Homo sapiens: one gene and its partners. The protein of the gene in region 1 purifies or fractionates together with the protein of each later gene. This does not show direct contact. Each region holds a gene or a part of one and is shown on either strand. Other genes may lie near its edges.

Evidence for each region. Proteins that work in one complex are often made in the same cells at the same time.
Region 2: the proteins of RNF17 (region 1) and NBPF10 purify together in Homo sapiens (affinity purification with mass spectrometry, with the first as the bait; one large-scale study listed by BioGRID). This does not show direct contact.
Region 3: the proteins of RNF17 (region 1) and MSRA purify together in Homo sapiens (affinity purification with mass spectrometry, with the first as the bait; one large-scale study listed by BioGRID). This does not show direct contact.
Region 4: the proteins of RNF17 (region 1) and NFX1 purify together in Homo sapiens (affinity purification with mass spectrometry, with the first as the bait; one large-scale study listed by BioGRID). This does not show direct contact.

What each region holds. Positions count from the first base shown.
Region 1 is NC_000013.11:24,770,669-24,774,168, forward strand, and holds part of RNF17 (RING finger protein 17), read left to right. Parts: intron 1-3,500. UniProt on the Homo sapiens protein: Seems to be involved in regulation of transcriptional activity of MYC. In vitro, inhibits DNA-binding activity of Mad-MAX heterodimers. Can recruit Mad transcriptional repressors (MXD1, MXD3, MXD4 and MXI1) to the cytoplasm. May be involved in spermiogenesis.
Region 2 is NC_000001.11:146,142,005-146,146,124, reverse strand, and holds the start of NBPF10 (NBPF family member NBPF10), read left to right. Parts: upstream 1-1,320; 5' UTR 1,321-1,355; coding exon 1,356-1,530; intron 1,531-3,372; coding exon 3,373-3,475; intron 3,476-4,120.
Region 3 is NC_000008.11:10,319,792-10,323,291, forward strand, and holds part of MSRA (mitochondrial peptide methionine sulfoxide reductase isoform a precursor), read left to right. Parts: intron 1-91; coding exon 92-198; intron 199-3,500. UniProt on the Homo sapiens protein: Has an important function as a repair enzyme for proteins that have been inactivated by oxidation. Catalyzes the reversible oxidation-reduction of methionine sulfoxide in proteins to methionine.
Region 4 is NC_000009.12:33,300,516-33,304,015, forward strand, and holds part of NFX1 (transcriptional repressor NF-X1), read left to right. Parts: intron 1-747; coding exon 748-906; intron 907-2,675; coding exon 2,676-2,753; intron 2,754-3,500. UniProt on the Homo sapiens protein: Binds to the X-box motif of MHC class II genes and represses their expression. May play an important role in regulating the duration of an inflammatory response by limiting the period in which MHC class II molecules are induced by interferon-gamma.

The sequences.
Region 1 (3,500 bases):
TTGAAACCTTGAAAGAACATTCTCTTCCCCACCAAAGATGTATATTTCACAAAAATGGGAGACTATAACAATTAGTAATCTGCTTTGTTTCTTTTAGCAACCTTCATCTATTCTCATGAAAATAAGCACTATAATTTTCTTAACTAATTTCTTTATTGATAAACATTTAGTTTTAAAATTTTTTTCACTATAATTGTGTACAATTCCTCAACCTCACCTCCATCAGTAGGTTCTGTAATTTCTAACTCCAAAAGAAATTCATATTTTGAGCTTGTTATATTTGTTTTAGTGTTTTGGCAATTTGATGTAAAAAATGGCTGTTTCCTTGTTGTAAATTGTAATTCCCTCATGATCAGTGAAGTTGAGCAACTTTTCATATGTTTGACTTATCAGTGCCTCTTCTGTGTGGATCTTTAACAGCTCTTTTCAGATCCTTTGGATCTTTTCCTTTTGAATTGTCTTTTTCCTAACTTGTTGTTTGTTGTTGTTTGCTTTTTCTGGAGACAGGGTCTTGCTCTGTTCCCCCAGACTGGAGTGCAGTGATGTGATCACAGCTCACTGCAACCTCAGCCTCTCCAGCTGAAGCAATCCTCCTACCTCATCCAGTCCAGTAGTAGCTGGGACTAAAGGGGAGTACCACTGCACACAGATAATCTTTTTTTTTTTTTTTTTTTTTTTTTTTGGAAGAGGTGAATCCTTGCTATGTGGCTAGGCTAGGTCCTTGCTATGTTGCCCAGGCTGGTCACGCCTTAGCCTTCCAAAGTGCTGAGATTACAGGTGTTAGCCACTGTATCCAGCCTGTCTTTTTTCCTAAGTTGTAAGAGTACTTTATGTGATAGCAATATTAACATTTCATCCTGTGTAACTGTTTTCTCCCAGCCTCTCACTTTTGATTTTATTGCATTTAGCCATTCAGAAGTGTTTCTTAACTAGTCATTTTTACCCCTGCTTCATGAATTCTAGGTAGGGCTTTTTTTTTTTTTTCTGACTAGGCAGACCTTCCTAACTCAAAGTTATATATATATATCTTCAATACTTACGTTTTTTTAAAGAAGTATATGTTGGCTGAGCTCACGCCTGTAATCCCAGCACTTTGGGAGGCTGAGGTGGGTGGATCACATGAGGTCGGGAGTCGAGACCAGTCTGACCAACATGGAGAAACCCAATCTCTACTAAAAATACCAAATTAGCCAGGCATGGTGGCGCATGCCTGTAATCCCAGATACTCGGGAGGCTGAGGCAGAAGAATCACTTGAACCCAGGAGGCGGAGGTTGCAGTGAGCCGAGATCGCACTATTGCACTCCAGCCTGGGCAACAAGAGCGAAACTCCATCTGAAGACAAAAAAGTGGGGGCGGTATATGTTTAATTATTTTATGTGTTATGTGATGTAAGGTGCAGGTATACCTTTATTCTTAAGAATGATTGGCTGATTTTGTCATACCTTTTATTGAGTAATCCTTCCATTTAATTGAAATCCCACTTGTATTCTATATTAAGTTCTCATAGAGAGTTGGGTCTGTTTCAAGGCTTTGTTCTACTGATTTATTATGCTAGCACATAGTGTTTTAATTATTACAGTAGTGTTATAATAGTCTTATTAATTGGTGGAATAAATTTATGCTGAATTCGATGTTAAAGTTTTTGCAGTTCTTATACAATATATTTTTCCATACGTATTTTAGAATTGTATTAATTTCATATTAGATGATGTTAGGACATTCAGTCTTTCTCTCCAGGAACCTGGTTTGAGTCTCCATTTTTTTTTTTTTTTTTTTTTGTTCTTGTTTTATGACCTCTAGCCAGGTGCGATTTTTTAAAAAGTTTTCTTTACTTACAGCTTATAGTTTTCTTGTTAAATTTTCCTAAATAACTTCAATCAGCAGGAAAAGAAACAGATAACTCCATTAAAAAGTGGGCAAAGGACATGAACAGACACTTCTTTTTTTTTTTTTCTTTTGAGACAAGAGTTTCGCTCTGTCACCCAGGCTAGAGTGCAGTGGCGCCATCTCAGCTCACTGCAAGCTCCTCCTCCCAGGTTCACGCCATTCTCCTGCCTCAGCCTCTCGAGCAGCTGGGACTACAGGCGTCCACCACCACGCCCAGCTAATTTTTTGTATTTTTAGTAGAGACGGGGTTTCACCATGTTAGGCAGGATGGTCTTGATCTCCTGACCTCATGATCCGCCCGCCTCAGCCTCCCAAAAGTGCTGGGATTACAGGCGTGAGCCACCGCCCCTGGTCGTGAACAGACACTTCTTAAAAGACATACAACCAGCCAATAAACATGAAAAAATGCTCACATCACTTACCAGAGAAATGCAAATCAAAACCCACAATGAGATACCATCTCACATCAGAATGTCTATTATTAAAAAGTCAAAAACTAACAGATGTTGTCAAGGTTGTGGAGAAAAGAGAATGCTTATAGACTGTTGGTGGAAATGCAAATTAGGCCCTGTGGAAAGCAGTTTGGCGATTTCTGAAAGAACTAATAATAGAACAACCATTTGACTCAGCACTTCCATTACTGGGTATATACCCAAAGGAAAATAAATTATTCTGCCAAAAAGATACCTGTACTCATATGGTTATCACAGTATCATTCACAATAGCAAATACATGGAATCAACCTATGCGTCCCATCATTGGTGGGTTGAATAAAGAAAATGTTGTACGTATACACCACAGAATACTATGCAGCCATTAAAAAGAATGAAATAATGTTGTTTGCAGCAACATGGATGCAGCTGAAGGCCATTATCCTAAGCAAATTAATGCAGAAACAGAAAACCAAGTACCACATTTTCACTTCAAGTGGGAGCTAAACATTGGCCACACGTGGACATAAACGTGGAAACAGTAGACACTGGGGACTGCTAGAGAGAGGAGGGGAGGCAAGGGCAGAAGAACTTTCTGTTGGGTTCTGTGCTCACTGTTTGGGTCATGGGATCAACAGAAGCCCAGACCTCAGCATCATGCCCTACACCCTTGCCACAAACCTGTACACGTACCCCTTGAATCTAAAATTTTAAAGAAAAAGATAATTTCAGTTTCACATCCTGGCTTATCCTTTAATTGACTGAGTGAAGTTAGAGGACATACTTCAGCTTTACTTCAGTTTCCTTTTCTTTCTTTTTTGTATTGTATTGTGAGGTTTCAATGAGATAGTTTGCCAAGTTTGTAGGACCTAGGCACCCAGAGAATGATGTTGCATTTCCTTCTGCCTTCTTCATTTTTCTTTCAGGTATCAGTTCATGATCTGAGTGGCTTTTAAAATATGTGGAAAAAAATCAGAGACCGCAGGGCCTCAAATAAATGAACATAAGAAAACTGTTCTCAGAAAAAAGTCAACCATCAACTATCCAACTTTCTTCTATTTCTAACTGCATTTTACTTGAACACTGTCTCGAGCAGGGATTTTTCTTCATCTAGTGTCTGTGGGCCACAGTGGACTTTAGGAATTCTATTGAACCACATGATTTTAAAAAGTTTTAAATTA
Region 2 (4,120 bases), on another chromosome or scaffold:
CTAGGTGGGGATGAAAGCTGAGAAAGCGAAGAGGTGGTTCAGGGGATCACTCTTTCCTACTTGTTCCTCTCACCTCAAACTCACCTTCTACTGCACAGCAACACTGAGGATCGCCAACCAACCCTGACCATAACCTTGATCTTGCCATGTTCTGTTAGTGGAATGCAACCCAAAATCAATGGTGTTAGGTCATCTCAACAAAATATATATCAAACCATATTCCATAAGAACTGCTCGTGGCCCTGTTCTTTTCAGTATATGGGAAAACAAAATGGAAACAACAAAATAGCATCAGGTTTACAAAACTTCCCAAGATAGATGGTCACACATGTTTTCAGGAGACCTCTATATAAATGACTTTGATCACTTGATACCTTGAAAAGAGGTCTTGGGGCACTAGAATGACATCTATAAGTGACAAGTATAAAATGTAGTGCTCAGTGACATTAAAAAACAAATCAACCCACATAGAGGAAGAGCTTTGGACGTAGGGATGTCAAACTGGTCTAGAATGTAATGAAAACCCAAGAAGGTGCCCCAGTAAGAAAGAAGAAATCAATCTAACAATGGGATGCAGCAGCAAGAATACTGAGACAGGAAAGAAAATATTTTAAAAAAATGAATTATTCATTCACTTTCTAGTGGATACAGAAAAAACTGCAGAAGACCCGGAGGATATCAGGGCAGGCTAAAAGTTTGATATCTTACACCTGTGGAAAAGCCTTAAGCTCTGTTTTAACTGAGAGCAGGTGGGGTGACTTCATGACTACCATTAAGAAAATATAACCTGTTGGGAAACTGTTTCTGCCTTGATGATGTTGTACAGACAAGAGATAAACAGTGAGGAATATGCTTAGATGTATTGGGAAAGACACGGGTCTGTGGCATTGTCACAAGGGTACACGAATACTGAGAGTGAATGCTGAAGGAATGATCCCCATTGGTGGTGACCCTCAGGTGAGAGTAGGGTGCCTGTGTTTCAGCAAAGCCTGGGCAATTGGAATGCAGAGCTCCTAAGATTCCATGACACCCCCACCTTCTAATTCTGTTATTGCAACTGCAGACGGTTACCTGGCACGCTGGCCACATTCTGCCTCACTCTTATCAGAGTCTGAGCTACTGGCAGTGCTTTCAGCTCTGAGTTGAGGCACCTCGAACCTTGTTTTTGTGGTGAAGGATCCTAAAGTGCTGTGGGGAGTGATCACATTTTTCACAACAGTAAGTTAAGAATTTCAGTTACTGACATCCCTCAGTCCTCATTAAACCGATTTGATTTCACCAGTTTTTAACCCATCATATGTTTGGGTTTCTTCTCCCCAGTCCCTGACTCCACCTCTTCTGCCACAAACGTCAGCATGGTGGTATCAGCCGGCCCTTGGTCCAGTGAGAAGGCAGAGATGAACATTCTAGAAATCAACGAGACATTGCGCCCCCAGCTGGCAGAGAAGAAACAGCAGTTCAGAAGCCTCAAAGAGAAATGTTTTCTAACTCAACTGGCCGGCTTCCTGGCCAACCGACAGAAGAAATACAGTAAGATCTATAGGCTCACCATCATGAAAGTGATGAATGATATCCTGTCTTCTCTCTGAGACACTAAATGCTCTCTCCATCAAAAATAATTTCATCCTTCCTGTACTTCTAGGAAAACAGAAATGGGTATTTTAACATTTTGTTAAAGTTGGAAGACAGAGGTGCCAAAGTATTTAGCAACTTTCCATGTTTGCAATCAGATGGGGGTGGAACTAGAGTTAAACTCACAGTTATTGATTTCTAACACAGGCACAGAATGACCTGTTTTCTCCAAGGGGCTCAATCATGTTTTTAAGAATCCTCTCTGTACCATATAAGATCCTGCAGACAAATAACATCTAGTCTGTTGTTCTAAATGTCTAGGACTAGTGAACTTTTATTCAGTTCAAGTTTCTGTTGAGGCCCAACAGGCAAAGCTCTGTTCTAGTGACTCTGAGGGGAACTTGGTGATAGTAGCCAGTACCTGCTCTGAGGGGCTTCAAGGGGAGTCTGCTCCTAATAGAACCTGTGCTATCTATAAGTGACAGCATCAAGAGCAGGGAGTAGGGGCCGTGCAACGTGGCTCACTCCTATAATCTCAGCACTTTGGGAGGCTGAGGCGGGCAGAGCACGAGGTCAGCAGTTTGAGACTAGCCTGGGCAACGTGGAGAAACCCCATCTCCACTAAAAATACAAAAAGTAGATGGGCATCGTGGCGGGCAACTGTAATCACCACTAATCGGGAGGCTGAGGCAGAAGAATCCTTTGAACCCAGCAGGCAGATGTTGCAGTGAGCCAAGATTGCACTATTGCACTCCAGCATGGGTGACGGGGCAAGACTCGTCAAAAAACAAACAAACAAAACGATAAATAAATCAAAAATAAAAATAAAAAGCAGAGAGTACCTTGGTGAGAGTGAAGTCCTGCTTCCTGGTGCACAGGCTCTTGTTCCTAAAGAGGAAAGATCACACCGGAGAATGTGTGGAAGCAGCAGTGCAGTGTGCAAAGCAGGGACCCTCAGCCTGTCTCCTGGGCTCCATCCAAGTTGCTTGTCTTGTCTGTCCCTCAGTTTCCTCATCTGTTCAGAGGGTACTACAATAATACCTACCTCTGTAAATTGCTGCAATGAATTACCTGAGGTATTTCCTGTCAATCTCCTTGAACATTAATTGGCACAGTGTAAACACTATCTATTAGTTCTTCATTCTGATGTTTCTAAATTAACACAAACTAATCTTATGCTGTTTCTAAATTAACACAACTAATCTAAATCTTAATGCTGCCTCTCATACTAATAAAGTATTTGGGCATATTTCCTTCATGGCCTTATTGTCTTATGTCTCACACTTTATGCTTCAGATATGATTCTTAAAACCATATCTGAATATTGATTTAAAAGTGAAATATTTTTAAAGTCCTTGACATATTTGTCCTTGAAATACCCAGTAAAAGGGAAGCCATCAGTCCCATAGTCCTAGGGGCCTTCCCGACTGTACAAGAAATCACTACTTCATGCCCCAGTGCAGTGTTTTAGAGGAGAGGCTGCAAGGCTTGGGAAAGTGGCCCCGCATTCAGAGTCAGACCTCAGGGGCTGTGAGTTCTGACTCCACTTCGTTGTGGTTGAATCATCTTGTCAACTTCCTTGATGTGCCCTTGAGTTTCTCTTTTTTCGTCTTTAAATTTTGGAGGATCAGATGCCAGAAAGTCAGGAGACTGAAGAGTAAAGATGTGGAAATCCCTGTCTAGACCCTGGTACTGGGGAGAGTTTTGTCCTTGGGATGGACCTGGCTCCTGCCCTGTAGGCAGTGACCACAGCAGCATGTCCAGCCTTCCACTGAGGCAGGCGTGTCTGTCTTTTTTCAGAGTATGAAGAGTGTAAAGACCTCATAAAATTTATGCTGAGGAATGAGCGACAGTTCAAGGAGGAGAAGCTTGCAGAGCAGCTGAAGCAAGCTGAGGAGCTCAGGTGAGGGGACCCCATAGGGGGAGGCAGGCGGGTAGGTGTGTAGATCTCTGAAGTACAGCAGCTCGGCGGGGAGAAGTAAGAACGAAGCTGGGCCAGGGGAAGGGCAGAAATTGCCATGGCAGGCTCATGACACACAAATATTTATCAGAGAGCAAGGATAATAATAAGTTCTGTGTTGCAGTTGTTTCTTAGAGCCTTGTTTTCTCTTTTTCAAACAAGTAATTGTTGATGTGAAATTTACATAACACAAAATTCACCAAAGGAGTGGGAACCACCCAGCAGCATTCAGTATAATCAAAATGGTGTGCTATCGCCACCCCACTTACCCTTAGTGAGAATCACCTCCTGACTGACTGCGTCTTCTCATTCTTTCACTCAATCAATGTTGCCTCCTCGACCCTGTCCTTCTTTTCTTCTTTCATCTTTTCAATTCGCCCCATCTGCACCTGGCCTCATTTCTGTACGTGGCTTTGTATCTAGTGGCCGCAAGATGCACTATGTGTATTTTCACATGGAAATGTCCATGGCCAGAGTGAGGAACTGAAAGGATGTCTTTTTGAAACGGAATTAGGAAGACACCTACTTTTGTTTACAGAAGAGAAAGATGAATGGAACATCATCGAGGATCTTGCAGGAGCCCTCTCT
Region 3 (3,500 bases), on another chromosome or scaffold:
AAGTGTCAAAATGTCTCAGCATTGTGCCCAGTTTGAGACTGGCACTGTCGCCTAGTGACCGGGTAACCCTCCCTGTTTTCTGCTTTCCTAGGTATGCGCCAGGGGAACGACCATGGCACTCAGTACCGCTCGGCCATCTACCCGACCTCTGCCAAGCAAATGGAGGCAGCCCTGAGCTCCAAAGAGAACTACCAAAAGGTAGGGATTGCTGGGCTCCTAGCCCCTGGCTTAGGCCACCATGACTAGGGCCAGGTTCTGATTTTAGAGGGCAGTCTGCTGCTTTTCAACTGGAATTGTGTTTTATTTGCACATCTCTTAGAAATTTCTGTCAGCCTCTAGGAGTGGAGCCATTGTGTCTAATACGTGTGCTAAATGAGGTTTTAAGAGTAGGCCTGGGCCAGGGCCAGTGGCTCATGCCTGTAATCCCAGTACTTTGGGGGGCCGAAGCAGAAGGATACTTGAGGCCAGGAGTTCGAGACCAGCCTGGGCAACATGAAGAAACCCCATCTCTACAAAAAATACAAAAATAAGCCAGGCATGGTGGCCTGCACCTACAGTCCCAGCTACCTGGGAGGGTGAGGTGGGAGTATCGTTTGAACCTGGGAGGTCAAGGCTGCAGTGACCTGTGATTGCACCACTGCACTTCAGCCTGGGTGACAGAGCAAGACCCTGTCTCAATGTAAAAAAATAAAGAGTAGGCCCTTATGTGTTTGCCTTTGAATCACTCATCTAGATGAAGACACAGCCTGTTAAAATAAGTCTTTTTCCTTCTCTCTTTATTTCTGTCTCTGTCTGAAACTCTCTCTTTTTTTCTTCCCTCTGTATTAGTTTTACAGGGCTATTGTAACAAACAGTCACAGCCTGGTTAGTTTAAACAGCAGATATTTATTTTCTCACAATTCTGGAGGCTGGAAGTCCAAGATCAAGGTGTCGGCAGGGCTGGTTCCTTCTGAGTGCTGTGAGGGAAGGGAAGGATCTGTTCCAGGCCTCTCTCCTTGGCTTCTAGATGGCTGTCTTCTCCATGTTTATATTCACATCAGCCTAGTTTTATGTGCGTGTGTTTCTTTGTCCAAGCTTCTTGTTTTTAAACAGTCTCTAGTCATATTGGCTTAGTGCTAACCCTCATGACCTCGTTTAACTTAATTACCTCTGTAAAGACCCGTTCTCCAAGGAAGGTCACATTCCGAGGTTTTAGGACTCCAACATATCTTTTGGAGGGAGACACGATTCAACCCATAACACTTTCTCATAACAGTAAATTGAATTATGATAAAAGTAGTTCTCGGAAATATATACATGATATCACAAAATAATTATTTTCAGAGTTGTGTACCCTTTTTTAAAATCCTCCAATAGAGATTTAGTTGTTTTAAAAACAAGTTGACTTGCTTTAGTTTTTAGAACTTTGTGATAGTACTTGTATTTTATTTATCATTATATTTTCTGATGTGGATTTGCATTTGACAGTAGAGCTAGAAGCTACTATAAAGCTAATCTATGTTAGAATTTTGTAAAAAGTCAGGTATGCAACAGCCCCCAGGAATGAGTGCAGAGACGAGGAGGCTGTAACTAGAGTGTCCACTGGTGAGCAAGTAGAAGGACGGGTGACTCAAGGTCAGTTCGACTATGATGAGCGGAGAGGCCTGAGGGAGGCGCTGACAGAGCCCATTCCTTCCTTGGCCCCTCCCACCTCCCTCCCAGGGTGATGTCTGCTTGGCTGGTCATGGTAGGCAGCCTGTGGGATGGCCCCCAGTGCTCTCTGCCCATATGTAATTCATCTCCTTGAATATGGGCTGCATTTAGCAACTCACTTCTAATGAATGACAGCAGTGATGGGAGCACTCTGAGACTAGGTCATTAAAAGATTGTGGCTCGTATTGTGAAAACTCTCTGTTACCGCGTGAGAGATGGTAGGGGAAGCCAGTTGCCACGTCATGAAGCAGCCCTGTGCAGAGGCTTACATGACAAGGACAAAAGCCTGCCAAGAACTATGTGAGTGAGCTTCGAATCCCCTCAACCCCAGTCAAGCCTTCAGATGAGACTGCAGCCCTGCCTGACAGTTTGATTACAGCGTCATGAAGGACTTCAAGCCAGAGGCACACAGCCAAGCTGTGCCACAGAAGCTGTGAGATAATAAATGTATATACTTTGAAGCTGCTAAGTTTTAGAGTAATTTAAGTATACTTGTATTTCCATTCTAAAAACCTTTTACCTATATATTCTTTCTCTTATCCCTTTTTCGTAATGGCTTTTGTAACAGTGGTGGGCTAACCTGGGCATTTATGGTGGTGGTTACACATGCAGTCTCTAGCATGAAATTTTCTCAATTCACATGTCATCTGTGCAGTTTATTATCAAGTACCTGACACTTAGAAAGCCATATGTTCTATTTGACTCAAGCAGACCTATGAGGATGAGGGAGACCCCATTATCCCCATTTTCCAGATGCTCAAAGAGAGAGCAATGACCTTAGAATAAATGAAATTAAAGAGAAGTAAGACTGGATGCAGGGAGATGAGTTGGGCAGCTATTATAGGATTCCGGGCCAGAAGTAATGGAAGCTTTGTCTAGGATGGTGGAAGTATGGGTGGGAGGGAGGGATATTTAGGAAGTACAAAGACCAGAACTTGGAACTTCACTGGAAGTGGAGAGTCAATAAGAGGGACAGGTCCAGGTCCAGGTCATGGCTGGTGATTTTTTGTACAAGTGTACAGAGAAGCAGAGGCAGATTTGTGGGGAAGGTAAGTTAAGTTGTGAAAGTGCAGAGTCTAAGGTGCCCATGACATGGGCATCCAAGGGGCTGTTTGGAGGAGCCATGGGCTGTTTCTGCCTTGCAGGGAGGATTGTTAGGACTGCTAACTGGGCTAATGCTTGTGAAACACAGGGCCTAGCACATGGTAAATACCTCATAAACAGGAACCCTTATTATTATTGGGAGTTGTCAACTTATATTTGCTAAATGAAACCCCAGTTGCTGATAAGATTACTTGGGAAAAGTAATGAGATAAAAGCAGAAGAGGCAGGGCACAGTGACTCACGCCTCTAATCCCAGCACTTTGGGAGGCTGAAGTGGGCGGATCATGAGGTCAGGACTTCGAGACCAGCCTGACTAACATGGTGAAACTCGGTCTCTACTAAAAATACAAAAATTAGCCAGGCGTGGTTACACGCACCTGTAATCCGAGCTACTGAGGAGGCTGAGGCAGGAGAAATGCTTGAACCCAGGAAGCAAAGGTTGCACTGAGCTGAGATTGCATTACTAAACTCCAGCCTGGGCAACAGAGTGAGACTCCATCTCAAAAAAAAAAAAAAAAAAATGCAGAAGAGAGGGCTTAGTACCCGAGGAACTGATTCCTCCACTTGAGCGGTGGGAGGGGAACTGTCCAACCAGGCAGGACACTACACTGGGCACCACAGGAACCAACCCCAACCAAGAACTTAAAAAGTGGTTCAATTGTTTCATCCCACTGTATTTAATTATAAAGGCAGTATTTATAACT
Region 4 (3,500 bases), on another chromosome or scaffold:
AAAAGCATATACACACACTCACACTCAGTTTTGAGAGTATCTGGCTGTATTGAAATCTAGAAAGACTTTGCTGCAATTGTGTTTGAGGAAAAAAATCTGGAAGTGGGTGAAGGTATTCAGGAATAGATCTGGGAGGATTATTCTGATACTACACACTGGTCTGTGTCACTGGACTTTGAGCTCCTGGAGCCAGGGACTGTAACACCACCATGGGGCTTATGGTAGGCACCAAGAATATCTTTGTTAAGTGAATGACTAAAGACTTTGAGGGCAACGGCTAGAGCCATCTCACCACTCATGGGTTGTTGGAACCTGCCCAGACTTGGGCTTCTTATAGCTGACACTACAGCTTCACGAGCCTCTTTCTAACCTAAATCCATGGATCTGATAGATTTAGAGGATCCTGGAAAATAGAAAATGCAAAGCAAGATCCTGTATTGCCCAGTGGATCCTCAGGCTATGTTACAAGGGGCATTTGGCTACTCTGCTGTTTTCCTGGGAATGTTTCCTTAATTGTGGGAATCCCCACCTGAGTGTCTCCTTCCTAAATCCTCTTCCTCAGCAAATTCCTGCCCCTTTTTGGCCTCAGTCTGAATAGCCAGCTGCCTTACCCAGAATCAGATATCCCTTAAAATCTCTGTGTTTGGATTCTTCTCTTGAGTGACTTGCTGATCCTTGGTTGATTAAAGTGAGGAATGGTTTTTTGTGTTTGAGTTAATCTTTTTTGTTATTTTGTTTTTTAAACAGGTTCTCTAATTGAACAACTAACAACAGAAAAATACGAGTGCATGGTGTGCTGTGAATTGGTTCGTGTCACGGCCCCAGTGTGGAGTTGTCAGAGCTGTTACCATGTGTTTCATTTGAACTGCATAAAGAAATGGGCAAGGTCTCCAGCATCTCAAGCAGGTCAATTAATTCTCTCTTCTGAGTAGTTATTCTCCCCTATTTGATACGTTTAAGTATTATTAAGCCCAGCTTTAAAAATACAGTTTAATTTCTCTTAACTACTTTTTCTGCAGGGAGAGTATGTTACCTTGATCATGTGTTTCATATGACCAGAATTAAGTTATAGATCTTAAATAAACCAGCTAAACAACAATATTAAAATATATTTTAAGATACGACAAAATCAGTCACTCTTATTGAAAATGATGGCTTTTACTTATTATTTTTTCTTTGACCTACTGATTTTATTTCCTGTGGATACATAAACAGAAGTGTGATTGCAGGATCATATGGTAATTCTATTTTTAATTTATCTTCTTCTCATTTTTGGCCAGGCATGATGGCTCACGCCTGTAATCCCAGCGCTTTGGGAGGCCAAGGCAGGCGGATCATCTGAAGTCAGAAGTTCAAGATTAGCCTGGCCAACATGGCAAAACTCCATCTCTACTAAAGATATAAAAATTAGCCAGGCGTGGTGGCGGGCACCTGTAATCCCAGCTACTCGGGAGGCTGAGGCACAAGAATTGCTTGAATCCAGGAGGTGGAGATTGCAGTGATCTGAGATTGCACCACTGCCCTCCAGCCTGGGTGACAGAGCAAGACCCTGTCTCAAACAAACAAAAAAACATTTTTTTTTCATTTTTAAATTTTTACTATGCATACGTAATAGTTTACATGTTTATGGGGTACACATGATATTTTGATACAAGCGTACAATGTGTAATGATCAAATCAGGGTAATTGGCATATGGGGATTCCAACACCTCAAATATTTATCATTTCTTTGTGTTAGGAGCATCCCATTTCTACTCTTCTAGTTATTTTGAAATATATAATAAATTGTTGTTAGCCATAGTGCTACTAAACACTAGATCTTATTCCTTCTATCTAACTGTATTTTTTTTTTTTTTTTTTTTTTGAGACAGAGTCTTACTCTGTTACCCAGGCTGGAGTCCAGTGGTGTGATCATGTCTCACTGCAGCCTTGAATTCCTGGACTCAAATGATCCTCCTGCCTCAGACTCCCAAGCAGCTGAGACTACAGGCACATGCCACCACATCCAGCTAATTTTTTTTTTTTTTGAGACGGTCTGCTGTGTTGCCCAGTCTTGTCTTGAACTCCCAGGCTCAAGCAATTCTGCATCAGCCTCCTAAAATGCTGGGATTAGACACATGAGCCACCATGCCTAGCTAGTGGTTTTTTTTTGTTTGTTTTTGTTTTTTTTTTGAGAGGGAGTCTCACTCTGTTGCCCAGGCTGGAGTGCAGTGGCACGATCTCGGCTCACTGCAGCCTCCACCTCCCAGGTTCAAGTGATTCTTCTGCCTCAGCCTCCTGAGTAGCTGGGATTACAGGCGCGCACCACCACGCCCAGCTAATTTTTGCATTTTTAGTAGAGATGATGTTTCATCATGTTAGCCAGGGTGGTCTCAATCTCCTGACCTTGTGATCCACCCACCTCTGCTTCACAAAGCGCTGGGATTATAGGCATGAGCCACCACACCTGGCCTTTTTTTTTTTTTTTTTTTAATGAACCCCATATTTAGTGGAAAATGCTGTATTCAAGCTAAGCAGTCAGTATTGTGAATTTGTTCCTTAAATGTCTGATATGCTTAACATTGAAATTATTACCACTACTTCAATATTGTGTCTTCCTATAGATTTAAATTTTTTTAATTACATGTAGCTTTTGGAAGAAAATTTATTTGGCCTACTCCCATTTTTCCTGACAGATGGCCAGAGTGGTTGGAGGTGCCCTGCCTGTCAGAATGTTTCTGCACATGTTCCTAATACCTACACTTGTTTCTGTGGTAAGTTTGTTTATATACACTGGAGTCTCTTTTACTACATACATTGTACCTCAGTTCAGGAAAGGTGGTCTGCGGGGCATGTTTTAGAAGTTACTAATGAGACTTCAAAGCTCTAGGAGTCTATAAGACTGTAATTATGTGGTCCATCACACAGCTAGAGCCACAGCCTTTGTGCTCCTGGCAAGCTGTTCTGGAGATGGCCAACCAGGCTCATGCTGCTTCTGGGCTGTAGTGCTTGTCTCCTTGGTCTTGAGACCAGGCCTGACCATGTAGCAGAGATAGGTGTGGACGTGGGCTTCATCTCACCCCCAGCAGTTACAGCTTTGATAGTCCAGATTTGAGCAGTATGAGTAAATAATAGTGTTTATTTTAATCCTGGAAATAAGTCATTGGTATTTATAATCAGATTTTTTATAAACCAGCATTATAAACTCTATCCTGGCATCTTCCCTCTTTATGGAATACTTCTTTCTGTTTTTGAATATCTCAGTTCCCCCAAGTATTAGGGGAAAACTTCTTGTAACCCAGATGCTCATTCTTGCTGCTAGCCCATTTCTGCATGTTTTTTTTCCTTTCCTGCCTTTTAATGACTAACTTCCCTCTAGTTGTTGATTTTTCAGATTTTGTTTCTTTACTGTCTGTCTCCCTCCCTGAAGCATTGCATTTTTGCTTCTGTCTTGTTGCCTCACTGAAACCGTATTCAGAAATTACCAATGGGCCGGGCTTAGTGGCTCACGCCTGTAATCC